Homo sapiens: one gene and its partners. The protein of the gene in region 2 interacts with the protein of the main gene of each other region in a biochemical or structural test. Each region holds a gene or a part of one and is shown on either strand. Other genes may lie near its edges.

What was found.
Region 1: of the proteins of RIGI (region 2) and TRIM25, one has a biochemical effect on the other in vitro, tested with the Homo sapiens proteins (5 studies listed by BioGRID, with this or other methods).
Region 3: of the proteins of RIGI (region 2) and RNF135, one has a biochemical effect on the other in vitro, tested with the Homo sapiens proteins (6 studies listed by BioGRID, with this or other methods).
Region 4: of the proteins of RIGI (region 2) and RNF125, one has a biochemical effect on the other in vitro, tested with the Homo sapiens proteins (3 studies listed by BioGRID and IntAct, with this or other methods).

Annotation. Positions count from the first base shown.
Region 1 is NC_000017.11:56,904,044-56,911,068, forward strand, and holds part of TRIM25 (E3 ubiquitin/ISG15 ligase TRIM25), read right to left. Parts: intron 4,521-7,025; coding exon 4,425-4,520; intron 446-4,424; coding exon 212-445; intron 1-211.
Region 2 is NC_000009.12:32,481,176-32,488,200, reverse strand, and holds part of RIGI (antiviral innate immune response receptor RIG-I), read left to right. Parts: coding exon 1-256; intron 257-567; coding exon 568-730; intron 731-2,921; coding exon 2,922-3,026; intron 3,027-3,057; exon of another isoform or gene 3,058-6,703; coding exon 6,704-6,861; exon of another isoform or gene 6,862-7,025.
Region 3 is NC_000017.11:30,981,029-30,988,053, forward strand, and holds part of RNF135 (E3 ubiquitin-protein ligase RNF135), read left to right. Parts: intron 1-3,588; coding exon 3,589-3,732; intron 3,733-6,915; coding exon 6,916-7,025.
Region 4 is NC_000018.10:32,014,204-32,021,829, reverse strand, and holds the start of RNF125 (E3 ubiquitin-protein ligase RNF125), read right to left. Parts: upstream 3,006-7,626; 5' UTR 2,967-3,005; coding exon 2,803-2,966; intron 1-2,802. UniProt on the Homo sapiens protein: E3 ubiquitin-protein ligase that mediates ubiquitination and subsequent proteasomal degradation of target proteins, such as RIGI, MAVS/IPS1, IFIH1/MDA5, JAK1 and p53/TP53.

The DNA of each region.
Region 1 (7,025 bases), on a different chromosome or scaffold from region 2:
AGAAACTCTGAGAGAATAAATATGTGTTTTTTGAAGCCCCTACATTTGTGGTAAGTTGTTGCCCAGCTCAGAAAACTAATACAGCGTGTGTCTCAGGGATGCTTCCAGTGACCTCTTCCAGTCTCCCGCTCCTTGAGGGCCCTATCATCAACAGCATGACATCAGGCAAAAAAAAAAAAAAAACATTCAACAATGCCTTGTGGCGACCTACCTCCAGAAACTCGAACTCATCCCTCTTGGTCAGGCTCTGTTCAATCTCCTCCTTCAAGGTCTGGATCTCACTCTTCTTCTTGAGGAGAATCTGATAAATGGTGTCAAACTTGCTGTTGACCCTCTTCTCCTCTTCCTTTATCTTCCTTGTCGAGGTGGTCTCTGAGGCGTCCAAGAGAGCCTTCATTTCCGTGTATTCTTGTTGTAGCTGCTCCACCTTTCTGTTTGCAGTCATCTGAGAGGGCCAAGGTAAGAGGATGCCCGTCAAAGGGGCAAAAGTGCTAAGGCTGCAGCCCCAAGCATGGGTGAGATGTGGAGTTCCAGGAACTCTTACCTGTACTTTGTGGGAGAACAAACCACTGTGGGGAGCAACTTGGCAATATCTAATAAATTTGGAGGTGCTCATAGGCTATGACTCGGCAACTCCAGTCCTAGGAATATGTGCTACAAAAAATTGCAGCCACCTGCCCCTGAGACATGCATAAGAATGTTCACAGGCAGCATTGTCTGAAGTAGCAAAAACCTGGAATCAACCTGAACATCCATCAGAAGAAGACTTGAAGCAAAGACTGGGAGCTATTCATAGGATGGAATATTAAACAGTTATGAAAATTAATAAACTGGAGCTATGCCTGGATAAATCTCCATGAGAGAAAAACAACTTGCAGAAGAAGATCCACCATATGATGCTCTTTCAATAAAGCTTAGAAACAAACAGAATGGCTATATGCACAAAGAAACGCATGGGAATGAATAAATAAATTCAGGAGAGTGGTTACTTCTGGAAGAGAGGAAGAGGGATAGAATAAGGGAGAAACAGATGGGAGGGGCTGCATCGATGATATTTTATTTCTTAAGCTAAAGGTGGTTCATGGGCAATTTTTAAAAATAAAAGTCAGCAAGAGATCAAGACCATTCTGGCCAACATGGTGAAACCCCATCTCTACTAAAAATACAAAAATTAGCTGGTTGTGGCAGCGCGCACCTGTAGTCCCAGCTACTCAGGAGGCTGAGGGAGGAGAATCGCTTGAACCCAGGAGGCAGAGGTTACAGTGAGCCGAGATCGTGCCACTGCACTCCAGCCTGGGAGACACAGCGAGACGCTATCTCAAAAAAATAAAATAAAATAAAACAAAACAAAAAGTCAGGATGCAGCTCTGGAAAATTTCTAGAGAATATCATGCTCTAGGATTGTACTTTCCAATAACATAGCCACTTGCTACATGTGGCTACTGAGCACTTGAAATGTGGTTAGTCCAAACTGAGACTTGCCATGAGTGTAAAATACATACTGGCTTTCAAGGGTTTCACACCAAAAAAAGGAATGTAAAATATCTTAAAACTTTTAAATTGATGATATGTTGAAAGAATAATATTTAAGATATACCAAATTAAATAAACTATAATATTAAAATTAATCTCAGTCAAGTGCAGTGATTCATGCTCATAATCCCAGCACCTTGGGAGACCGAGGCAGGAGGATCGCTTGAGGCCAGGAGTTCAAGACCAGCCTGGGCAACATAGACAGACTGTTTCTCTACAAAAATAAAAATAAAAAAATTAGATGGACTGTATTCCTGGAGAGTGGGGGTGGTGAAGGGGAGTAGGCTCAGTCAGGAAGATTACTTGAGCCCAGGAGTTCAAAGCTGCAGTGAGCTATGATTGTTCCACTGCACTCCAGCCTGGGTGATAGAGTGAGACCTGTCCTAAAAAAGATAGATAAATAAAATACAATAAATCTCATGTACTATTCAAATTAACTTAAAATGACATCTGCACTCCTACTGTATTTCTGCTGGACAGCACTGCTTTAGTAGCTGCAATTTTGTTTCACATCTTGGGTAGCCTCAATAGCTGCTATGGTTTGAATGTCTCCTCCAAAGCTCATGCTGAGATTTAATTGCCACTGAGGTGATTAGATCACGAGGGCTCTGCCCTCATGAATGGATTCATATTCTTATCACAGGGTTTGACCTCCTTCTTCCTGTCCCGCTCTCCTGCCTTCCATCCTTCCGCTATGGATGATCCTCACCAGATGCTGGAAGCATGCTCTTGGACCTCTCAGGCTCCAGAACTTTGAGCCAAATAAACTTCTCTTCTTTGCAAATACCCAGTCTGTGGTATTCCGTTATAGCAGCAGAAAACAGACTAAGACAATAGCTCAGAATCAAACATAACAAAGAGAAAAACACACAAGAAGGACAGTAGACTGGAAAAGAGGAATTCAAGTATTTCTTCGCCAATATTTTTTTTTTTTGAGATGAAGTTTCACTCTTGTCACCCAGGCTGAAGTGCAATGACATGACCTCGGCTCACTGCAACCTCTGCCTCCCGGGTTCAAGTAATTATCCTACCTCAGCCTCCTGAGTAGCTGGAACTATAGGCATGCACCACCACGCCCGGCTAATTTTTTGTATTTTTAGTAGAGATGGGGTTTCGCCATGTTGGCCAGGCTGGTCTTGAACTGCTGACCTCAGGTGATCCATGCGTCTCGGCCTCCCAAAGTGCTGGGATTACAGGCGTGAGCCATTGCGCCCAGCCTTCTTTGCCAATCTTTCACTGTGCAACTTCTAATGTGACTACAAGTGTCCCCCAGTGTTCATTTTCCCTTTTTTCCTTTTGGTAAGAGAACATCCCTGGAGTTTCATCTGGGCGTGTGGCTACTCAGACTACATTTCCCAGCCTCCCCTGCAGCTAGACTAGGCGATGTGACAAAACTCCTTCCAGTGACCCATGCCCAGGAGTGATATGTGCAACACTGTGTCACTTGTGTAAAGGAAAATTGCTTGTTGTCCTCCACCTCCTTTTTGTCCCTTTGTCACAGGCTAGAACAAAGATGTAATGGTAACCCAGCTTCAACCAAAGAGGCTGGGACAATACCTTGTGGAATAGTAGGGTAATAAGAAGGGAGAACCCTTAATCCCTGAATGATCACATGAACCCTTAGTCTGGGTTACTCATGTGTGGGTTTGGACTGTCAGTTGGTAAAATAAACTTCAATCATATTTAAGCCTCTGAATTCTGGTGTATCTTTGTTACAGCAGTATAGCCTGCCCTCTAACAAATACAGGTACTTTCACGTGCATTCTTTCATTTGTCTCACAGTCATCTTCAGAAAGAACTTGTGATTCCATTGTGCAAATTGGGAAACGAAGGTTCAAAGATCTGTCAACATGACCAAAGCAACATAAACTAGTATGTGACAGAGCTGGTATTCTAACCTAGATCTCATCTAATGAAACCATAACTGCTGCAATAAAACTGGTGCTGCAGCTCTGAAAAAGGGTAAAAATCTGATCTTTCCATTTAAAAGCAATTTAAACGTATCGAAAATCTGAAAAACAGGGGGAACAAAACCATTCCTAATTTACCACTCCAACACTTCCACTATGATCCTTCTATAATATTCCCTTTCAGTTTCTTTCCATGCTCTCTGTAATGGGTTGAATGCTGGGCCCCCAAAAGACATGTCCATATACCAGAACCTGTGACTGTAATCTTACTTAGGAAAGAGGTCTTTGCAGATGCAATTAAAGATCTTGAGATTCGATCATCATAGATTACCTAGGTGCTCCCTAAATCCAATGACAAGGGTTCTTATTGGAGATGGAAGACACTAAGGGAAGAAGAGACAGGTATGTGAAGACAGAGGCAGAGATCAGAGTGATGCAGTCAAAAGCCAAGGAATGCCTGAGCCACCAGAAACTGTAAGAAGCAAAGAAGGGTTCTCCCCTAGAGACTTCGGGAGTGTGGCCACGCCAACATCTTGATTTTGGACTTCTGGCCTCCAGAACTCTGCCAGAATACATTTCTGTTGTTGTAAGCCACCAAGTTTCTGGCAATTTGTCACAGTAGCCCTATGAAACTAATATACTTCCTTTTTGTAAATAGATGCAACCCTATGAGCTATATACTTTTGCTTCCTCTTTTTCTCCCACTTTATATCATAACCATTTTTCTGAATTACTACTTTTTAATCCTAATTTATAATGATTTCCCCCACAGTTGGGCTTATAGGTAATTTTTGGTTTGGGTTTGCAAAGGATCTCTCTCAGACACACAGCTGTCTGCATGCTTTGCAAGGTTGATGTTTCATCCTGACACTGTGAGTGCACCCAACACCAGCCTTGTCATGGTCAGAGCCACGCCCATCCCGCGTGGAAGCTGAGCGAAGCCACAGGGCAGGGCTGGCCTTGGAGAGCCCTGCCACTCACCCGCACATCCTGCTGCCTGTTTCTCACATCATCCAGTGCTCTCGACGCCCCGTTGATCTGACTGTACATGACAGTTAGTTTGTGCCTCAGGGTGGCCTGCAGGGAAAACAAATGAGGTTGAGAATGCACCTCTTCAGCCCAGCCCCACCAGAAGCCATCCCTGGAACTATCCCACAGGATAGATTCCTTCCTCTTCCACTCCACCCAAGTCTTGCCACCCCAAGTCCTGTCACCCGAGTCTTGCCTGCTTGGAGCTTTTTGAAGCATTCTAATACTTACTACTTCCCTTCATCCTTTTCAGAGGACAGTACAGACCAGGGTTCCAGTCCCAACTCCCAGCTGTGCAACTGTGTCCTTCACCTCAGTTTTCTTGGACACAAAATAGATACAACTGTCCCCAGCTCACAGGGCTATTGGGAGGATTAATTGAAACAATGTAAGTACTCAGCCCAATGCCTGGATCTTAGGAAAAACATACTAAATGCCAGCTTATATTATTATGAGTTTTTCTCTAATTACCCATTTTACAGCCAATGAAACTCAAGCAAGGAGGACAGAAAGGTGGCCAAGCTCACACAGGAACAGAACGAGCTGGGACAGCTGCTTCGGTAATGGCAGGTGGGGCCACTCAGACCAATCCTCCCACTGCAAACAGCCAGGAAAGCAGTCCAAATAATGGGGCAGCGGGGAGATCTGCTAAAAGATGCTGGAGAGCCAATCAAGCAGAGGATTAAGAAGTCAAGGTCCAGGAGAAGGGGGAAGGGGGCCCAGAGAGATAAGCCTGATATCTAGGATGTTCTCTCCAGAGGCATCTGCCAATCCCAGAACAAGGCTGGGAGCCTTTGTCAGCCTCACAGGGCAGGGAGACAGAAATCAGAGTCCAAGGCTCACTGCAGACTGGGACCACCAAGGGCTGGGAATAAGATGAATCAGCCAGCCAGGCGCAGTGGCTCATGCCTGTAATCCTAGCACTTTAGGAGGCCCAGGCAGGTGGATCATTTGCTCTCAGGAGTTCGAGACCAGCTTGGGCAACATGGCAAAACCCTGTCTCTACTAAAAATACAAAAATTAGCCAGGTGTGGTGGTGCACACCTGTAGTCCCAGCTACTTAGGGGGCTGAGGCAGGAGGATCGCTTGATTCCGGGAGGTTGAGCCTGCAGTGAGCTGAGATGGCATCACTGCACTCCAGCCTGGGTGACAAAGTGAGACCCTGTCTCAAAAAAAAAAAAAAAAAGATGAAGTAGCTCACAGGGGCTGAAGCCCAGGTGCAAATCTGCTCAGTCCTAGCCACCTCCAGAAACAAAGGCAAACTGTATATGAAGGAAGCTAATATCCTCATCTGATTTCAATTAATTTTCATAATCAATATCTGAGTCTCCTACCTCCCTGCTCAGATGAATACTGCACAGAAATGGGAAGGAAAATCACCACCACCATAACAGCAGCAGCCAGTATTTATTATGCACTTACTGTATGCCAGGCACTGTTCTAGTGCTTTACCTGTATTAACTTACTTAAAGCTAAGAACAACACTATGAGGTAGGAATTACCCAGCCTTTACAGACAAGGACACTGAGGCACAGAACAATTAAGTGACTTGCCCCAGCTACACTACTAGTAACTGGCACAGCTAAGATCCCGATATTAAAATCATAGACACATGCCCAAACTGAGCATGCTGGAGATTTCTAGAAAAAAAAAATTTCCTTCCCGTAACTAGCAGGCTCAACATACTCTGGCTCTCTCTTCCACTTCCCAGACTCTTCAACTCCACCCAAGATATTCTGGGCGGAACCTGATCTTGAATCTAGATTTGAACAACCCAGTGACAGTCACATGTAGGGGTTGGAGGCAGGGACCAAGGCCACACTAACTCAATCCGAAAAGCCCAAGCTGCTCATGATGTTTCAAACTTGACCTCTGTGACACTGCCCTTCGACCTGGCCTCTAACAGTGGCCAAGATAAGGTGTGGGCCAAAGACCAGGCCTACATACATCCGGCCTTGCTGGCCTCAGAGCAAGAAGAGACCTCAGAACACCCCAAGGCTGCCAACTGCTTCACTTTCAAGAGCTGCTCATAGCACTACACCCTGAGCCCTATATTTTGAAAGATTTGATACACCATTAATCAAACACATGCGGCAGTACCCTCATCATGAATGGTGCCCACACGACTCCAGACCAAAGGAAAGTGACCCAAAAACTTTGGTAGCAGCAATAATCCCCTAATCAAAGGCAAAGGACTTTTTGAAATCCTGAGGATCCCTTCACAGACTAGAGACTTGGGTCTTCCACATGGGAGGCACCAGAGTCTCAAGTCCGACCCCACCAGTGGCCAAGGCAACCCAGCCCCCGAGGCTAAGGGCATTGCCCAGCTGAGACTGGCTCTGCCAACAGTGATGAGCAGCAGTAGCAGGGCTCAAAAAGCAGACCTGTTATAGGACTCAGCAAGTCAGGACAGGGGGGTAGGTGTTGGCAGAGGAAGGCCTGTTGTTAGGATTAAACAGCAGAGTTTAGGCCAGGCTCCTGGCTCACGCCTGTAATCCCAGCACTTCAGGAGGCTGAAGTGGGAGGATCCCTTGAGGTTGGGAGTTCAAGACC
Region 2 (7,025 bases):
TAGAGTTACAGGCATTTCTGGAGCAACAGCTGAGAATGTCCCAGTGGAACAGATTGTTGAGAACAATGACATCATCATTTTAACTCCACAGATTCTTGTGAACAACCTTAAAAAGGGAACGATTCCATCACTATCCATCTTTACTTTGATGATATTTGATGAATGCCACAACACTAGTAAACAACACCCGTACAATATGATCATGTTTAATTATCTAGATCAGAAACTTGGAGGATCTTCAGGCCCACTGCCCCAGGTATCTCCAAAGTCAGACGAATGCTTCAGAAGAGCTATAATCTTCCTAACTCCTATTTTCTTACTCTTATGGCCACACTGAAGATGTCCTTCTCAGGTCCCAAGTCCATATTGTACAACTCATTATGAATTTTGTTTCCTTTATTCATTTGTTCACTTAGTAAATATGCATTATGTGCCTCCATGTGCCATACACTGTGTGTTAGTAAAAACAAAAAAACGCCCTACCCCAGCAGGAAAGAGTTATATGAGGGGTTGTGGAAACATTGTACCATTTCTCAGACATCTAATGATTTTGAATGCTCCTTACAGGTCATTGGGCTGACTGCCTCGGTTGGTGTTGGGGATGCCAAAAACACAGATGAAGCCTTGGATTATATCTGCAAGCTGTGTGCTTCTCTTGATGCGTCAGTGATAGCAACAGTCAAACACAATCTGGAGGAACTGGAGCAAGTTGTTTATAAGCCCCAGAAGTGTAAGTTGGATCCAATAACAAGCCTTTGAGATTCTGTTACTCTCTACTACCTCTAGTTCAGAGCCATCTAGACGAATACTGAACTTTGACCCTCTCTCTGTTTAGTAGAAAATATTTAACCTTGAACTTGAGTAACAGTCACATTTTTTAGCCTCTCTAACTGAGCTCTCATCCCAAGCAATGGATGAACCTCAGAAGTGGCCTGTAGAGAGCAAACATTCTTCCTCTTTGCTTCCAAAAACCTCTTATAAATGTACTAGCAATGCAAAAGAGGTGATGAGAGAATTTAGGCATCAGATAGCCAAGAGCTGGGCTCACTCAGCCTTTTCCCATGCTCTGTGCCTGTGTGGTCATCACTGTTTGAATATGTATTTGATCATTTTAGTTGAAATGGAATGATCTGAATTCATGATGTCACTCCTCCAAAGATCAGATATGATTTTTTAATATGACTAACAGTTGTTTATTGATGTTATTATTACACTAACCCTGAAAGGAAGAGAGGGATACAGAAAATATATATGACTTCACCCTTGCTCTCTGAGTAGTATGTGACTGTATTTCTGAGGTAGAACAAATAGACATGTAATAGGGAGTGGTGTAGATAAGTTCCTTTTTGAAGGCTGCTTGTAAGTAAGGATTTTGATGTACCTGATCCCAACTTTTCAGTGTCACATATGAATTTCTTTACAATCCGGTTCCTCCTGCCCTCTGAGCTTCATCACCTCCAAACATTCATAAACCCAACCATGTTGCATTCCTCTGGGCTCCTCAATCATGCCGTGTGCTTTCTCTCTCCCACCTTTTGTCTGTGCTTCCTTTGTACATCACTGCTCTTTTTTTTTTTTCTTTTTCTTTGCCAAGTTGTGATGGAATATACATGACTACTCTTGCTTTCTTCTTTCTTCTTCCTGTATTTATTCTACAACTCTGACTTCCCTGGAAGAATTAGGTGTTACTTTCCCTGTGTTTTGTGACACTTTGCGTGTACTACTTCTTTTTTTTTTTTTTTTTTTTGAGACAGAGTCTCGTGCTGTTGCCCAGGCTGGAGTGCAGTGGTGCGATCTCGGCTCACTGCAAACCTCCACCTCCTGGGTTCAAGTGATTCTCCTGCCTCAGTCTCCTGAGTAGCTGGAATTACAAGCGTGTGCCATCACGCCTGGCTAATTTTTTGTATTTTTAGTACAGACAGGGTTTCACCATGTTGGCCAGGCTGGTCTTGAATTCCTGACCTCAAGTGATCCACCCTCCTCGGCCTCCCAAAGTGTTAGGATTACAGGTGTGAGCCACCACACCCGGCTACACTTTACATGTACTTCTGTTAGAGAACTGCTACGGTTAGTTAGCCATGTATATTTCTCTCCCTTAAGATCACAGCCCTGTATGGAGCATGAAGTGTGTTCTTTCAACTGTCTATAATCAAAGCATGGCACATTGCAGGCAATTAATAATTAGGCTGAAATAATATATTGATAAATGGTAGGATCAGTGTGAATACTGCTGGGAGCTGTGTGGGGAGGGAGAATATCAAAGCACAGAGACAGGGTTAGATTGTGGCACTTGCAGAGACATGAGAGATGCCCGCCTCATCAGAGAGGAGGTAACAGGACAGCCACAGTAAGAAGCTGGTTAGGCCGGGTGCGGTGGATCACGCTTGTAATCCCAGCACTTTGGGAGGCCAAGGCGGGTGGGTCACCAGCTCAGGAGTTCGAGACCAGCCTGGCCAATATGGTGAAGCCCCGTCTCTACTAAAAATACAAAAATTAGCTGGGCATGGTGGTGTGCGCCTGTTGTCCCAGCTACTTGGGAGGCTGAGGCAGAAGAATCACTTGAACCTGGGAGACGGAGGTTGCAGTGAGCCGAGATCGCGCCACTGTACTCCAGCCTGGGTGACACAGTGAGACTTGGTCTCAATCAAAAAAAAAAAAAAAAAAAAAAAGAAGCTAGTTAGACCTACACCATGAAAGACAGGTGTTAGAATCAGTACAAGAAGCAACAGGGAGCCATTGCATTTTGAGCATTTGTTGTATCATCTGGACCACCTGCCAGTTAGCCTGGAACCTTAGGTTTTTCAGAGGAAGTATCAAAGGCAGAGAAAGGTTTTAGAGATACCTACTTTGAACTACAATCTGTCCTTCCTGAAAATATACTCACTCTTTTTTTCTTTTTCTTTTTTTTTTGACGTCTCTAGTTTTCAGGAAAGTGGAATCACGGATTAGCGACAAATTTAAATACATCATAGCTCAGCTGATGAGGGACACAGAGAGTCTGGCAAAGAGAATCTGCAAAGACCTCGGTGAGATAAATCTCATATTTTGTGTTCTCTCTACTGGGGAATAGCCATTTATTGTTCACTATCGTCTTTTTGTGTTCTCCTTAGTTCAGACAATGTCAAGACCATATCCAGAGGTTGTCTTCCTTGATTATAGGTTATTTAGGAGCCTTATATGTCCTCCTCTATTCTTTCTTTCTTCCTTTTTTTCCTTTTAAATCCAAAGTAAGTTCATCCAGACACATGCACCTGAAAAATAACCATACTTAAGTCAGTTCATTGCTTTCTCTACCTTCTAAATCAGCTTTCCCTCCTGACTTTCCTGTTCACCTGAATGAAACCACCATTCCTCTACTGGCTCAGATTTATATCTAGGGACAATCACCCAGCACATTTCCCAGCATTAAAGGAGTGCGACTAGAGATGGGCCAGGGGAAGACAGTGAAGGGCCTGGATTTGAATTTTATCCTAAAAACAATGGGGAAAAAAGTGAAGATTAAAACTGATTAGTGACGTAATAAAGATACCAGTGAATGAGAAGGACCAAAGAGAGGCAGTAGAGATGGATTGGAGAAGGAAGGAGACACATGTGAGATGCTTCCAACTGTGAGTGTTATGATTGAATGGCTAAACGGATTTGGGTGGGGATGAGAAAGGGGCAGGAGGGGCTGATTTCCCCCCAGGCATCTGGCTTAGGCACCTCTATGAATGCCAGTGGGTGGTCCTGGTACCAGGACTAGAAGCAGCCTTGGCAGGTACAAGGTTTTGAGTTTTGAGTTTTAGGGATGTTAAATGTGACGTCTGTAAGACACCTCATGGAGTGTCTCCTCTCACACTTATTTTGCTTTTCTCTCCCCTTTTCTTTCACAGTTTAATTTCTATTATAATTGTTCTAACAGCCTTCTAGCTGATTTTGCCTACCTCTGCTCTCTCTTCCATTCAACCTCTCATGAACTAGTTAGTCTTCATGAATACATTTTATCATGTCCCTGTCCTGCTTAAAAACCCTTTGCCTACAGGATAATCTTCACGCCTCTAACCTGCAGTCTGAGCCCTGCCTGAACACCCAGGTTCTACTTATCTTTCCAATGTTATATTCTACTACTTCCCTACCTGAATCCTTTTGATTTAGCAGTTTCCCGAATGTGTTCATGCATATGTTCATTCATTTAGTGCTAAGGAATGGGCTAGGTGATGGGAATACAGCATGAACCCTAAGATACAGCCCCTGGCCTCAGGGCATTTCTAGTCTGATGGTAAGACCAAAATTAGAGAAGTAATACTAATACTAAAGCAGCTGGTGTGGTGGGGGTGATAAGGTGTGTTTCAGGCACAGGGAATAGCATATGCAAAGGCCAGGAGACTAGAAAGAGTATAGGGACTTCCATTAGTCCTGTAGAATGCTGAAAGGAGAGTGGCCAGAAATGAGAAGCAAAAGCAAGCAGAGGCCAGAGCATGGGGAGGAGTGTGTGAGCTGGGGCAGGATTTTGGCTGCAGGACCACTAAAGGCTTTTAAGCAGTGGGGTGGGATGATTTCTCATCTGCAATTTTGCAAACTCCCTCTAACCACTGGGTAGAGTATGGGTTAGAGGGAACAAGGCAAGAGGAAGGGAGACCAGTTTGGAGATTGTCATATTATCCAGCAGCACACTGATGTGGTTTGAATTGGGGAAGTAGCAGAAGGATGGAGAGACGGTGATGGAGTCACGTGAGTTTCTATTTTCTTACTCCTCCCACCTCCCGTACCCTGCCTCCACCTTTTTGCCAGTCCGAATCCAGTTAGCTGCTCATCTCTAAACTGCTTAGGCTATTTTTACACCTACCCAGGTTCAATCAGTACCTGTTGGCTCATCTTCTTTACTGCTGGCCACCTCGCTGTAGCTGCAACTTGGAAAGAAGCATGTCAATACTACTTGTTTGGGTAGCCTCCTTTGTTCCTATTATTGAAAATGAATGAGTGAGGGGAAGAATTTAACCCAGAAATACAGCTCTTGCTTGTGACTTTTGTTGTACTGTGCTCTTCATGAGGAGCCCTGGCGAACTGATACCAGAGTAACTCACAGACTCAGCTGCTTGAGAACACAGCCATAGTCTCCTCATCTTATCCCCAGCACCCTACACAGAGCCTGGACCACAGCAGATGCCCCAGCTTTGAACCAAGCAACTGAGGCTTATCCTAGGAGATGCACACAGACAGATGCATGTGTGATAAGTGTCTTTTGAGGGCCGATTCTATGCTTGGCCCTGAGAATGCTGCTCTGGAGAACAGGAGGCCCAAGTTCACAGCAAAGCAGAACATAGGGTGAACTGAGTCCTAAATCTCCTCCTTGATTTTTTTTTTTTTTAAGAGTCTCACTCTGTCGCCAGGCTGGAGTACAGTGACGTGATCTCGGTTCACTGCAACCTCCGTCTCCTGGGTTCAAGCGATTCTCCTGCCTCAGTCTCCTAAGTAGCTGGGACTTCAGGTGCGTGCCACCACCCCCAGCTAATTTTTGTATTTTTAGTAGAAACGGGGTTTCACCCTGTTGGCCAGGGTGATCTCAATCTCTTGACCTCGTGATCCACCCGCCTGGGGCTCCCAAAGTGCTGGGATTACAGGCATGAGCCACTGCGGCCGGCCAATCTCCTGCTTTTATATATCCTCCTCTGATGAAGCTCTTGAGACCTGTTATTTTTACTTCTTCATTTTTAAAGGCAAAGTTGGGTTTTTCATGTCTACTGTTTTATTTCTGGGCTGCTTTGGTTGTCAGCTCATAGAGCCAGTAGAGCTTGGGCATCTGACACATGTGGGTTTGAATTCCTGCCCTTTCTCCACGTACTTGCTGTGTGACTATGGGTAAATTACTTATTACTTGGCTTTTCTGAACTTCAGTTTCCCAATATATGAAATGTAATATGTATCTCATGGGTTGTGAAAATTAAATGAAATTATGAATGTAAGGTACTTTGATTCTTGGTACACAGTACTCAAGAAACAATCAAACACACACACACACACACACACACACACAAACAAACACACAGATGCACTGCTTAAAACTCAAGGGAGGGAACAAGGCAAGAGGTAGGGAGAACAGTTTGGAGGTTGTCATATTATCCAGCAGCACAGTGGTGTTATCTCAATGGGGGAAGGAGCAGAAGGATGGAGAGATGGTGATGGAGTCACATGAGTTTCTATTTTCTTACTCCTCCCACCTCAGGTACCCTGCTTCCACCTTTTCACCAGTCTGAATCCAGTTAAATAGTTTTAACTAGATGACTTAAGACTATTTCAGGAGGAATATCCTGTTTGCAGAGAGTAAGAAAGAAAATTAGGCCAGGTGCAGTGGCTCACGCCTGTAATCCCAGCACTTTGGGAGACCGAGGCAGGCGGATCACCTGAGGTCAGGAGTTTGAAACCAGCTTGACAACATGGTGAAACCCTGTCTCTACTAAAAATACAAAAATTAGCCAGGCGTGATGGCACACGCCTGTAGTCTCAGCTACTTAGCAGGCTGAGGCAGGAGAATCGCTTGAATCCGGGAGGTGGAGGTTGCGGTGAGCCAAGATCGTGCCATTGTACTACAGCCTGGGCATCAGAGCGAGACTCTGCCTCGAGGAAAAAAAAAAAGAAAAAGAAAATTAGAGGGTGAGGCCTGTTTATAACCCTAAATGACTGACCATATGAGACAGTGAAAAACTTTTTTTTTTTTTTTTAACAGAAAACTTATCTCAAATTCAAAATAGGGAATTTGGAACACAGAAATATGAACAATGGATTGTTACAGTTCAGAAAGCATGCATGGTGTTCCAGATGCCAGACAAAGATGAAGAGAGCAGGATTTGTAAAGCCCTGTTTTTATACACTTCACATTTGCGGGTACGTTCCTCTTTTTAAGAGTCGTATTCTGGTCACAGCACCTACTGGGAGTGGCACCGTGGAAGCCAAGATAACATCAACTTCTCATCCTGTCCTCAAGAGCTCACTTAGGAACCTTTCCAGAAAGTTCTTATGAAGCAAACTCCAAAAGTTGTCCCATTCAA
Region 3 (7,025 bases), on a different chromosome or scaffold from region 2:
AGCGAGCCGAGATCACGCCACTGCACTCCAGCCTGGGCACCATTGAGCACTGAGTGAACGAGACTCCATCTGCAATCCCGGCACCTCGGGAGGCCGAGGCTGGCGGATCACTCGCGGTTAGGAGCTGGAGACCAGCCCGGCCAACACAGCGAAACCCCGTCTCCACCAAAAAAAAACGAAAACCAGTCAGGCGTGGCGGCGCGCGCCTGCAATCGCAGGCACTCGACAGGCTGAGGCAGGAGAATCAGGCAGGGAGGTTGCAGTGAGCCGAGATGGCAGCAGTACCGTCCAGCTTTGGCTCAGCATCAGAGGGAGACCGTGGAGGGAGAGGGAGAGGGAGAGGGAGAGCGTGGTGATGACTCTTAACCGATTTTTAATTATTTCAATCATTTTGTTAAATTTACCTGATAGAATTCTGAATTCCTTCTCTGTTATCTTGAATGTCTCCGAGTTTTCTTAAATCAGCTATTTTGAATTCTCTGTCTGAAAGGTCACATATTTCTGTTTCTCCTGAATTGGCTCTTGGTGACTTATTTAGTTAGTTTGGTGGGGTCATGTTTTCCTGAATGGTCTTGATGCTCGTGGATGTTTGTCAGTGCCTGGGCATTGAAGAGTTAGTTATTTATTGTAGTCTTCACAGTCTGGGCTTGTTTGTACCTGTCCTTCTTGGGAAGGCTTTCCAGGAATTTGAAAGGACTTGGGCGTTGTGATCTAAGCCGTATCTGCATTAGGGGGCACCCCAAGCCCAGTAAAGCTGTGACTCTTGCAGACTACTAGAGGTACCACCTTGGTGGTCTTGTATAAGATCCAGAAGAATTATCTGGATTACCAGGCAGAGATTCTTGTTCTCTTCTCATACGTTCTCCAAAACAGTCTGTCTGTGTGCTGAGCTGCCTGGAGCTGGAGGTGGGGTGACAGAAGCACCTTGTGGCCATGACCACTAGAACTGCACAGGGTCAGACCTAAAGCCAACACAGCACTGTGCCTTACCCAAGCCCCTTGTTAACCACTATCTGGCTACCACCTATATTGACTCAAGGACCTAGGGCTCTATAATCAGCAGATGGCAAAGCCAGCCAGGCTTGTGTCCTTCCCTTCATGGTGGCACATTCACCCAGGCTCGGGGCCGGTCCAGAGACCCATCTCAGCACTAGGACTTGCCTAGGAGTTGCAGTCCTTGTGGCCTAGACTGCCTTTCAAGTTTATTTAGAGCCCCAGAGCACTTCAGCCCACAGTGGAGAGGCTTGCCAGAACTCAGGTTCCAATAACTGGGGTGGGTGATTTGATTCCTCTCTGGCTAGGACTGATCTAAATGCTCCCTCTGTGGGTAGGCGTCAGCTGAATTCAGCCCAGTTTTGCTTTGTGAAGCGACAAGGCAAAGTCTTTCTATTCTCTTTATCACCATGCTCTCCCTTTCCTGAGTGCACAGATTCTCTGTGCATGTGGCCCCTGACACATGGGATATGGGTTGCATTGGCAATTCAAGACTGTTTCTCCTACCCTCTTCAGTGCCTGTTTCAGTAATATAAAGTTAAAACCAGGTACTGTAAGTACCCCTGATTTTTGGTTCTTATGAAGGTGCTTTTTTGTGTAGTTGTTAAATTTGGTGTTCTTGTGGGAGGGATGATCAATGGAGCCTTCTATTTGGCTATCTTGCTCTGCCCTCTCCACCCTTAAGTCTTCTGGCTTTCCCCCACTTCTCTCTGGCCCTAAACCATTTTTAAGTATACAGTTTGGTGATATGAAATACATTCACAATGTTTTGAAACCATCACTACCATCATTTCCATAACTTTAAAAAATTTTAAATTAACATGACTGGTTCTTCAGGGTACCATAACTCTTTTCAACTCGCAAAAGTGGAATTCTAGGAGGACATTAAAATTCTCCATTTCCTCTTCCCCCAGCCTCTGGCAACCATCATTCTAATTTCTGTCTCTGATTTTGACTACTCTAAATACCTCATATAAGTTGAATCATACAGTATCTGTCTTTTTGTGACTGGCTTATTTCACTTAGCATAATGTCTTCAAGGGTTATTTATGTTGTAGCATGTGTCAGAGTTCCCTTCCTTTTTAAGGCTGAGTAGTATTCTATTGTATGTATATGCCACTTTTTGCTTATTCATTCATTTGTCTGCAGATACTTGGGTTGCTTCCATGTTTTAGCTAGTGGGAATAATACTGCTATGGGCATGAGTTTATGAATCTCTTTGAGATCCTGTTTTCAATTCTTATATATCCGGAAGTGGAATTGCTAAATCATATGGTAATTCTAATTACATATATGTACATATATATATATATATATATATATATATATATATTTTTTTTTTTTTTTTTTGAGATGGAGTCTGGCCCTGTCGCCCAGGCTTGAATGCAGTGGCATGATCTTGGCTCACTGCAACCTCCATCTCCTGGGTTCAAGAGATTTTCTTGCTTCAGCCTCCCAAGTAGCTGGGATTATAGGTGCCTGCAACCACACCTGGTGAATTTTTGTATTTTTAGTAGAGATGGGGTTTCACCAGGTTGGCCAGGATGATCTCGAACTCTTGACCTCAGGTGATCCACCCGCCTCGGCCTCCCAAAGTGCTGGGATTACAGCCATGAGCTATTGCGCCTGGCCTATTTTTAATATTTTGAGCAGCCACCATTCTGTCTTCCATAGTGGCTATATCATTCCCACCAACAGTGCAGAGGGTTCCAATCTTCCCACACCATCAACATTTGTTATTTTGGTTTTTTTTTTTTTGATAGTAGCCAACCTAATGAGTGTGAGGTGGTATCTCACTGTATGTTTTGATTTGCATTTCCCTAGTGATTAGTGATCTTGAGTGTCTATTCATGTGCTTATTGGTGATTTGTATATCTTCTTTGGAGAAATAGCTATTCAAGTTCTTTGCCCATTTCAAAATTCAGTTGTTTGTGGGTTTTTGCTTGTTTGTTTTACCAACCAAACAAGCGGCAGTGATATGTTTTTATTGTTGAGTTTTAGAAATTCTCTGTATATTCTCAGTATTAATGCCTTATCAGATGTATGACTTGCAAATATTTTCTTCCATTTTTGTGGATTGCCTTTTTACTCTATTGTTCGTGTCTTTTGATGCACAAATGTTTAAACATTTCATGTAGTCCAATTTGTCTCCTTTTTTCTTTTGTTGCCTGTGCTTTTAGTGACATATACAATAAATCATTGCCAAATCCAATGTCATAAATTTTGCCCTATGTTTTCTTCTAACAGCTGTATTATTTTAGGTCTTACATTTAGGTCTTTGATCCATTTTGAGTTAGTTTTTGTATATGATGTTAGGTAAGGGTCCAGCCATATTCTTTTGCATATAGATATCCAGTTTTCACAGTACAATTTGTTGAAAAAACTGTCCTTTCTCCATTGAATGGTCTTGGCACCTTCGTCAAAAATCATTTAACTATATATGTGAGAGTTTATTTCTGGGTACTCTATTGTATTCCATCGGTCTGTATGTCTGTTTTTATGCCATTACCACAGTATTTATGATTCCCTCTGTCTAGTGGTGGTTCCTGGGTCCAGTTTTATAGAACCCAGGACCTGAACTTTGCTATTTTGAAGGTGGCAGTAGAGAAGAGCATCACAGAAGTTGCTCAGGAGCTGACAGAGCTGGTGGAACATCTTGTAGACATTGTCAGAAGCCTGCAGAATCAGAGGCCCCTATCAGAATCTGGACCAGACAACGAACTGAGCATCCTGGGCAAGGTAGGCTCCACTGGGAGAGGAAAGGATGTGGAAGGGAATAGGGCTAGGGATTGCTTTCAACTGGAACAACATGAACATATTTGAACCTGAAGGATACAATAAGTCTCAATCTTTTATTGTTCTCTTTACTACCAGACATGGATGATTGGACATTTGGAATGCTTGAGGTAAGGTTGGGAAGCTTCAGATGGGCTAGGATCACTCCACCTAACAAGCTGTCTCTAAGATCACCAGTGACCTCTGTGTATAACGTTCTGGTGCCTGTCTCTATAAGCGTTCTGGTGCCTGTCTTCATTGACCTTTCAGCAGCCTTTGACACTGTGGACCACACCTTCATTCTTAGCTTTTGGGACAGGAATCTTTTGGCTTTCCCCCACCTCTCTCTGGCTGATCCTTCTCAGTCTGTTTACAGGCTCTCTCTCCTCTGCTTAGGAATTAAATGCTGGAGTTCCTCAAGGCTGAGTTGTAGGTCCCTTTGTTTCCCCTGCAGGTAGTCTTCCCTGCATCCATGGCTTTAATGACCACCTCTATGCACAAATAATAGCTCCAGGCTGGAGCCTTCTCTGAGCACTAGGCTGCTATGTCTTCCTTCTCATCTTTTCTTCTTGGGTATCTCAAAGCATCACACTTAATGCGTCCTAAACTGCTCCTCTTCTGGGATTTCTCATCTCAATGCTTGCCCCATTATCTTTCCAAGTACAGAAGCCAGAGACCTGGAAATCATGTTACCTTCTTCTCCCTTACCCTAATATGCAGCATATTGTAGCTTTAAGACCTGCCTAATTACCTCTCAAATCTATTTACTTATTCTTGAGCTCCTTTGAGACTTGCTCTAATCCAAGCCTCTGATAATTTCATGTCTGGATTGCTGTCATAGTCTTCCAAATGCTCCACTCTCCCTCTTCTAGTCTGTTTTCCTCATGGTCATCACAGTGACTACCACAAACATCAATCTGAAAATGTAACTCATCTGCTTAAAACATTCAAATTACATCAGTTTGCTCAGGAGTAAGACCCAAATCCTCACAGGACCAGCAAAGCCCTGTAGGATCCCATCTCTGTCTGCCTCTCAAATCTCATCTCTGCTCATGCTGCCTGGCTCTGTGCGCTCTAGCTACACTGGCCGCACAGTCGCTCTAGTGTGTCTCACGTCTTCCCACTACAGGGCACCCTTCATGGAATGCTCTCCTTTCCCTCCATCACTTAGGTAATACTTGCTCATCCTTCAGATCCTAGCTAGAACGTCATTTCTTCAGAAAGAAGCCTTCAATGATTTCCTTGAACAAATCAAATCTCCCCATTAGAGGCTCTGAGGACTCCATGTACCTTTCATTTGTAGTGGTTATCACCATTGCACCTTTGTAATGTCTTGTGCCATACTCTATATTAATGTCTGCCCCCCTCCCTTTTCCTTCACTGGACTCTCAACTTCAGGAGGATAGGGACTTTTGATGCTTTTTTTTTTTTTGAGACAGAGTCTTGCTGGAGTGCAGTGGCGTGATCTCAGCTCATTGCAACCTCCGCCTCCTAGGTTCAAGTGATTCTCCTGCCTCAGCCTGCCGAGTAGCTGGGACTACAGGTGTCCGCCACCACTCCTGGCTAATTTTTGTATTTTTAGTAGAGACGGGGTTTCACCATACTGGCCAGTCTGGCCTCAAACTCCTGACCTTGTGATCCACCTGCCTCGGCCTCCCAAAGTGCTGGGATTACAGGCGTGCGCCACATTGCCTGGCTGATGCTTTTGTTCTTTTGTCCACCATTGTGTCCCCAGGCGCTAGCACAGTACCCAAGTACCCACTTACAGTAGGGGTTCAACAAATACCCACTGAATGTATGGATAAATCCATCTTTAGGGATGCGATGTGTTGGGATAGAAACGCTGAGAGTCTGACTTTCAGAATTGACATTGTCACTCACTAGTATTATGACCTTGGGCAAGTCATTTCATCTATCTGCGTCTCAGGTTCCTATCTGTAATATAGAAATAATGATACAGGGCCTGCCACATCATTGGTTTATTGTGAGGATTAAAAGAGGTATAAGAAAGTGCTTGAGCAATGTTAAAATGTGGGATGTTATAATTAACTGTGGCAATTTAGTTAACCTTCATGAATTTCATCTTCTTTTGTAAAACGGAGATTTTTTACAGGTTGATAAACCTACTTTGTGAGGTTGTTATGCAAATGAGAGAAAGGCAATATCTAGCATGTAGAAAACACTCAATAAGTGTAATACTACCGTATTTTGATTGGTGGAAAGAATGGGGAGTGGATTATGCAAAGGTGGGAAGGAAAGGGGTTGAAGTTGGTGAGCAGATAAAGGGCTGTATTGGGGAAGAACAGGACCTGAGGCTAAAGAAAATCAGGGAGCATGTGTTGAAGGCCCTAGAAAGCAGGACCTGGATGCAGGCAATTTGAGAGGGAGCTCTTGCGAAGTGAAATGATATAATGATAGAGGTGGGAAAAGGTTCCTTTTTTTTTTTTTGTGAAATGGAGTCTTGCTCTGTCGCCCAGGTTGTAGTGCAGTGGCATGATCTTCTCAGCTCAGTACAACCTCTACCTCCCGGGTTCAAGTGATTGTCCTGCCTCAGCCTCCCATGTAGTTGGGATTACAGGCACTTGCCATCATGCCTGGCTAATTTTTGTATTTTTAGTACAGACAGGGTTTCACCATGTTGGCCAGGCTGGTCTCGGATTCCTGACTTCAGGTGTTCTACCCTCCTCAGCCTTCCAAAGTGCTGGGATTACAGGTGTGAGCCACCACACCTAGCCGAAAAGGTTATTCTGACCTCCATGGTTTATCTCAGTAACTATCTGTAGTATTTATTTTATAAAGCCCCTATAAGATGCGCCTAGAAATGTTAAACTTTTTTGGTATTACCTAAGAAATCCATGTTTATTGTGCAAAATATTAGAAAGCACATAGCATTAAATAAAGCAAATTAAAGTGCTCCATAACTCCATCACCCAGAAATAACCACTCTTTGATATTTTTGCTGTACTATGTACAGCAAATTATTCCAGATTTTTTTCAAGGCATATTTTTTGAGGGCCTAATTTTGTTTTTAAAAACTTGCTGGGAATTAAATAGAAAATTATAGATGAATAGAAAAACTTGAATATAATAGTTGATAGACTGCATAGGGGACTTCCATTTATTCAGTTTTAAATGGTTTATCAATAGGCTTTTTCTTCTGGGGTGGATCTTTCCATGGCTTCTCCAAAGCTGGTGACTTCCGACACAGCTGCAGGGAAAATCAGAGATATTCTCCATGACCTAGAAGAAATTCAGGA
Region 4 (7,626 bases), on a different chromosome or scaffold from region 2:
CAAAGAAAAAGATTAAACAAAAAATTTAACATTTTGCAAATTTATATTATCCTTTAGTAGAAGGAAAAATATTGTAAATGGTAAATTATAATATTCAAAGTCCAAACCGAGAAAACAATCTCCAGTCAGATCATTGAATAGCAAAGCGGTCTGTTCCAAAAAGAATCTTCAAAACGCCCACTGTTTATGTTTTGCACAACTTTAAAGTTTTAATGCTAATAATGACTCAATTTAAATGGAGATATCTTTAGGCTGTTATTGCCCTAAAATAATCAATATATTTTATGACTCACACAGCCCATCTTGGCTTCCAGACTGGCCTGTGGATATTATGTTAATAAGCTACATCTGGACAGCTGAGCAACAACATCAGTAATAGAAAGGAGGGTAAATTTAAGCCTCGAGTTTTAAGAACAAAGCTGAAACAACAGGCCTTGAAAATACAGCTACGGCCGGGCTCCATGGCTCACGCCTGTAATCCCAGCACTTTGGGAGGCCGAGGCGGGCAGATCACGAGGTCAGGAGATCAAGACCATCCTGGCTAACACGGTGAAACCCCGTCTCTACTAAATATACAAAAAAATTAGCCGGGCGTGGTGGCGGCACCTGTAGTCCCAGCTACTCGGGAGGCTGAGGCAGGAGAATGGCGTGAACCCGGGAGGCGGAGCTTGCAGTGAGCCAAGATCGTGCCACTGCACTCCAGCCTGGGCAACACAGCAAGACTCCATCTCAAAAGAAAAGAAAACACAGCTACGAAATAATGCCCAAAGCACTCTTTATTTATACATTGTGCAGGCTGCACACTTTTGTCCCTGGCTCACAGACGGGCAGTAGTGAAAACTGCTTTTCAGATACAAGGCTATAGGTATTAAGGATTACCTAAGTCCTTTCAAAACTTTCTTTTTTTTCTTTCTTTTTTTTGAGACTGAGTTTTGCTCTGTTGCCCGGGCTAGAGTGCAATGATGCCATCTCAGCTCACTGCAACCTCTGCCTCCCAGGTTCAAGCAGTTCTCCTGCCTCAGCCTCCCAGGTAGCTGGGATTACAGGCACGGGTCACCACACCTGGCTAATTTTTGTATTTTTAGTAGAGACGAGGTTTCACCATGTCGGCCAGGCTGGTCTCGAACTCCTGACCTCAGGTGATCCATCCACCTCGGCTTCCCAAAGTGCTAGGATTACAGGTGTGAGCCACCACGCCGGGCGTCAAAACTTTTGACTGCAAGTGCACAACATGTTTTTAAGGACTACCTAAATCCTTTCAAAAGTGGTCCTCAAAAACATGTTGTGCACTTGCATTCATAATAACGGTATTTCTTTCTTCCTGCTAAGCCAAATGCTGGTACAAGCCACTGTGGTATCACACATGGCTTCATCATACTATAGTCACCCTTCAAAGGACATTAAGTAGGCTTCCGCTCCTGATCTGTGCAGACACAACACACACACACGTATCCACGAAAAAAAATCAAAGCAAAGAGAGAAGGCTGGGTGCAGTGGCTCACACCTTTAATCCCAGCACTTTGGGAGGCCGAGGTGGGTGGATCAATTGAGGTCAGGAGTTCAAGACCAGCCTGGCCAACATGGTGAAACCCCATCTCTACTCAAAATTCAAAAACTAGCCGGGTGTGGGGGTGGGCGCCTGTAATCCCAGCAACTCGGGAGGCTGAGGCAGGAGACTCACTTGAGCCTGGGAGGCGGAGGTTGCAGTGGGCGGAGGTTGCAGTGAGCCGAGATAGCACCACCGCACTCCAGCCTGGGCGACAGAGCCAGACTACGTCTCTCTCTCTCTCTCTCAAACACACACACACACACACACACACACACACAGTAAACAGAGAGCACAAATTCACAGCTCCAACTCCACCAGTTATTCAAACACACATTAAGGATGTGCCAATTTTATATAGGGACTTTGTTTTTAAATTCTTCTTAGAAACGACCACGGCTTTGCACCAACTGTGAGTTTTAGCTAAGTACTATGCGGTTTTGAGAAAGTTATTTTACTCTGTAATTTCCGCCGGTTTGGAGAGACCGTGCGTAAAGCAGGTAGCCTGCCACCTCCTGTTACGTTGTGGCTGGGTTTTGAAGGAGTACATTCAGGGGCTTGGCGGCTAACGTCCAAGCCCCACCCTAGCAGGTTGTTAAACTCTAACAACTGTGGAAAGTCACTCGGAAGCTCCAGTTTGACTTGCCCTTTGAGGGGCTGGGTGTCTGTGTTGGGAAAGGGTAGCAGGGGTGGGGGTGGAAAGACACTTTGCACAGATCCTTGTTTGCTTAAGACGAGCCTCTGTGGGCATTCTGGGAACACGTGCACAGCTCCAGCAAAACAAAACGGACCCGGGTTTCTGGGGCAGAGGGAAGCGCAGCCCGTTCTACCGTGTTCAGCGGGGTAACTGCGCTTTGCGGGAGCCCCTGCCTTGTAGCTGGAGCTCGTTTCCTTTCCGTGCCTGGGCGAGCGCTGGTTCTCCAGCCAAGAGCACCCTCCCCAGTTGGCGAGCCCTGGCTCTGGGCGGGACCCGTGCCTGGATCCCCTTCTCTGGAGTTCCGCACCTGGGCTTCGGGAGCTGAAAGCGCAAGGGGGCTACAGGACCCGCTTGTTTATTTTTTCTCCTCCCGAAATCCTGTGTCACCTTCCGACCCGCGTTTTCCCCGTGGTCCTGCATCCGACGGGTCCAGGTTTCTCCCTGCAGCAATTTCCTAAGAGGCTGTCTTCCGTCCCCCTCCTTCCCCACACCATGCCCTCAGCTTCCCCACATCGCCCTCCTTAGGGGTGGGCGCAAACCGAGCTCCCCTGGAACTTACACGTGGCCACAGCGGGTCCGGACAGGCTGGTGTAACACCTCAAGGCACACGGCGCAGTCGAAGGACGTGACGGGCAACTCCGGGTCCCTCCTGCGCTCCAGGGCCCGCGCGGTGGCAGAGGCGGGCGCCGATTTGCCGCTGTCGGTGCTCAGCACGGAGCCCATCGCTGTGCCTCTCGCCCAGACAGCTGCGAAGCACTCAGTGCCTGCCGCAGGGTTGTTTTGTTGCCGTGCGGTGGAGGAAGGAAGTCCCGGCCCAGCTGCGATCGCCGCCTCCCAGCTCTCCCAGCTCGCGCAGCCCAGAAGCCACCTCCGCCGCTGCGCCCAACCCTGGTCTAGGGCAGGGCGAGCGCGCGGCCGCGGGGCTGAGATCTTCGGCAAGCCGCCTAGGTTAAGGCGCGGAGGCGGAGGCGGCAGCCGCCCCGTGCTCTGTCTTGTGGTATTGGGAGGATTGAAACCTGAAACCTCAACTGCAGAGAAGAGGACTTGAGGCAGCAGTAAACCTTCCAAGCTATCACACACAGCTGCTTTCCCCACTGTCAGAAGTTAAGTGCGGGCGTGGCCATGCTTAATGATAATCAGAGAACAGCCGCTTTTAAGGTGAAGTGGAAGACCATCCTCCACTGTTGTCATCACAATAAGCTGCAAAAATGACCTATGACCTATGATTGGGCGTCTCCTAAGACGGTGCTATCGCTACTCTGTCATCCAATCAATAGTCCATTAATGGAGAGATAGCCTGGGTAGTGGAAAGAGTCCTGGAGATTAGGATTCCAATCTTACCTCTCCTACAGAGATTCTAGTGCTAAACCCTGCCATCTCCAGTTTCCTCTGCGGCTCAGGATTTCCTCTGTTGTTTGTACGCTCCCCACCCCGCCCTTTAAACATGATCAGCCAGGCGCGGTGGCCCACGCCTGTAATTCCAACACTTTGGGAGGCCGAGGCGGGCTTGAAACTCCTGCTTGAGGGCAGGAGTTCGAGACCAGCCTGGCCAACATGGTGAAACCCCGTCGCTGCTAATAATACAAAAATTAGCCGGGCGTTAATTTACACTTTTTACGAAGACTTATTTAGTGCCCACTGCACGCCAGACTCGGTTCTAGTGATGAAGACACAATCGTCAACAAGCAAACAAAATCCCAGTTCTCACAGAACTTACTTTAAAAAACAAAAACAAAACTTTGAGATAATTATAGATTCACATACAGTTGTAAGAATAGTACATAGTATATAATACACATATACAATAATATATAATATAACACATGGGATATAATAACGCATATAATACATGTACGTATTTAGCAGGCCATAAACTTCACCCAGGCTTTACTTTTAATTAGGAGATATAGGCCGGGTACCGTGGCTCACGCCTGTAATTTCAGCACTTTGGGAGGCTGAGGTGGGAGGATCACTTGAGCACGGGAGCCAAGATCACACTACTGCACTCCGTCCTGTGCGACAGAGTGAGACCATGTCTCAAAAAACAAACCAAGCCGGGGCAGTGGCTCACGCCTGTAATCCCAGCACTTTGGGAGGCAAGAAGGACAGATCACCTGAGGTCAGGAGTTTGAGACCAGCCTGGCCAACATGGTGAAACCCTGTCTCTACTAAAAATACAAAACTTAGCTGGGTGTGAGCTACTTGGGAGGCTGAGGCACAAGAATCGCTTGAACCGGAAAGGTGGAGGCTGCAGTGAGCCGAGATCATGCCACTGCACTCCAGCCTGGGCAACAGAGGGAGACCCTGTCTCAAAAAACCAAAACAGGCTGGGTGCAGTGGCTCACGCCTGAAATCCCAGCAATTTGGGAGGCCGAGGCAGGTGGATCACAAGGTCAGGAGTTCAAGACCAGCCTGGCCAACATAGTGAAACCCCGTCTCTACTAGAAATACATTTCTTTAGTAAAAATTTTTGTACTAAAAATACAAAAATTAGCCAGGTGTGGTGGCACATGCGTGTAGTCCCAGCTACTTGGGAGGCTGAGGCAGGAGAACCACTTGCACCCAAGAGGTGGAGGTTGCAGTGAGCCGAGACCATGCCACTACACTCCATCGTGGGTAACAGAGCGAGACTCTGTCTCAAAAACAAACAACAAACAAAAGGAAGATACATGTAATCAATCCATAAACAAATGAACAAAATCATTTCAGATAATCAGAGCCATGAAGAAGATAAAACAGTAAATGGCAATGAGGAGAAGAATAAGCTCAGAGAAGAATTTTTGGATGAAGTGACATTTGAGCAGAGCCATGAATAATGAAAAGAAGTGAGCCATTCAAAGATTTAGGAAAAAGCGTGGACTGGGAACAGTGAATGAGGCAGAACCAAAGAAAGGAAAGACCTATGGAGCTGGAGCATGGGTGGTGGGGGGCAGGCGGTGGGGGGGGGGAAATAAGATGAAAAGGTAGTTATTCCCATCTTCAAAAGGAAAACAAAAACCTCCCTTTCATCCCACTTATGCCTCAACTCCTGCCCCATATCCGCTTCAAGGCCAAATCTCTTGATCTGATCCTCTACATTTTGTCATCATTTCTTAATTATTCACTTCTTATTCAGTCCAGTCTGGGTTCTGAACCAACCTCTCCACCTCCATCTGTCCAAAAACTGCTTTATTATCAGTGTCACTGGTGACGTTCATGTAACTAATTCCAATAGATTCTTTTCAGCTATTTTTTTTGCTTGACCCCTCAACTATGTTTGTTAGTGCTGACCATCCCCTCCTTCTGGAAACACTCTGACTTTCCCTCTTTCTTTCTGGCTATTGTTTCTTCTCCCTTGCCAGAGTCTCCTTCTCCACTGGCTCTGGGCTGGAGATCCTAGGATTCTGTCTTAGGACCTTTTCCCTTCTCCTCTCTCTCTCTTTCTCTCTTTCTCTTTCTCTCAAAAATCACACAGGTTCTGTCACTATTTCGGTTCCAAAAACTTTCACATCTTTATCTCTACCCCAGGCCATTCAAATGTCCAATAGCCTAATAGCTTACATGACTGACCATTTGACATAAACACCCTCAGCCCAATGTCTCCAATAATGAACTCATTATAGTAGCAGCCTCCTCCAGTGGTTGATCTCTCTTTTAGCAAATGGCACTATGATCCACTTTATAGCTCAGTCTAGACACCTGGAAGTCATCCTTGATTTCTTCCTCTTCCTCATTCACATTGAATCAAGCATAATCACAATCCTGCCTCCAATATGTATCTCAGTAGTTCTTTTTTTTCTGAGATGAAGTCTCTCTCTGTCGCCCAGGCTGGAAGTGTGCAGTGGCGCAATCTCAGCTCACTGCAACCTCTGCCTCCTGGGTTCAAGTGATTCTCCTGCCTCAGCCTCCTGAGTAGCTGGGATTGCAGGCGCATGCCACCACACCCGGCTAATTTTATTATATTTTTGGTAGAGACGGAGTTTCACCATGTTGGCCAGGCTAGTCGTGAACTCCTGACCTCATGATCCGCCTGCCTTGGCCTCCCAAAGTGCTGGGATTACAGGCGTGAGCCACCATGCTCATTTTCTTCTATTTCCATAGCCACCGCTTATTTTAAATCACTGCATTCTCTTGTGTGACTTAATGGCAGTAGTTCCTAACTGCTCTACCCGCATCCATCATTGCCTCTCTCCAGTTTATTATCCACATGGCAACTAAAGTGATCTTTTGAAAAGCAAACATCTTGTGTCACCCCATGCACAAAATCCTTTAATAGCTCTCCTAATCCTTAGGATTAAATTCCAAATCCTTAATATTATCTAAAAATTCCTGCAAGACTTACTTTTGATGGCAGGAATCAGAAATTCAACTAAAAGTGCCTCGTTCAGTAAGGATATTTATTATCGACCAGCTCAGTGGCTTACACCTGTAATCCCAGCACTTTGGGAGGCAGAGGCAGGCTGATCATGAGGTCAGGAGTTCGAGACCAGCCTGGCCAACGTGATGAAACTCCATCTCTAATAAAAATACAAAAATTAGCCGGGCATGGTGGCACACACTTGTAAGCCCAGCTACTCAGGAGGCTGAGGCAGGAGACTCGCTTGAACCCAGGAGGTAGAGGTTGCAGTGAGCCAAGATCATGTCACTGCACTCTAGCCTGGGGCAACAGAGCAAGACTCTGTCTCAAAAAAAAAAAAGATATTTATTATCGAATATGGCAAACTAGTCCAGGTGTAAACAGTTCCAGAGATGTCTCAGCAGCTCAATTATGTCCTCACAGCCTCAGCCCCTTGCCATCCTCAGCATGTCTCCCTTATGGCTGAAACAGTCAATTCTATACACAACCTCCAAAAACAAAAAGGAAAGGGTAAGATTTCCCCCTTGTAGCTCTCTCTTCTTTTACATGGGAGAAAAACGCTTCCTAGAGGCCTTCCTCTGCAGGCTTCCCTTCCTATCTAATTGGTCAAAATTGGGCACCATTGCCATCCTAAATCAGTCACTAGCAAAAGAGAATGGGAGCACTCTGATTGGCTTAAACTTATTATTTATTCCATAGGACTTGGCACCTCAGCTCTCTGAAACAACATAAATAGGGTTCTTATACCAAGAAAGGAGATGAGACAATTGGATGGACCAACAGTAAGGTTTCCCAAAGTAACTATTTGGGGGTCTTAGCTGCTTTCACTCTCCTCCCTATTTTTCAGGCTTCTAAATTTCTCTACTTATTTCAGTCCTTGAGTGTGTTAAGTTCTCTCTGACTCAAGGCCTTTATCCATGCTTTTATTTTTCTCTTGGACTTAACACTTCCTACCCAACATTCTGCCATTCATAACTAAACTTTCTCAAATTTTTGTGTTTTTGTTTTTGTCTTTGTTTTCCCTGAGATGGAGTCTCGCTCTGTCCT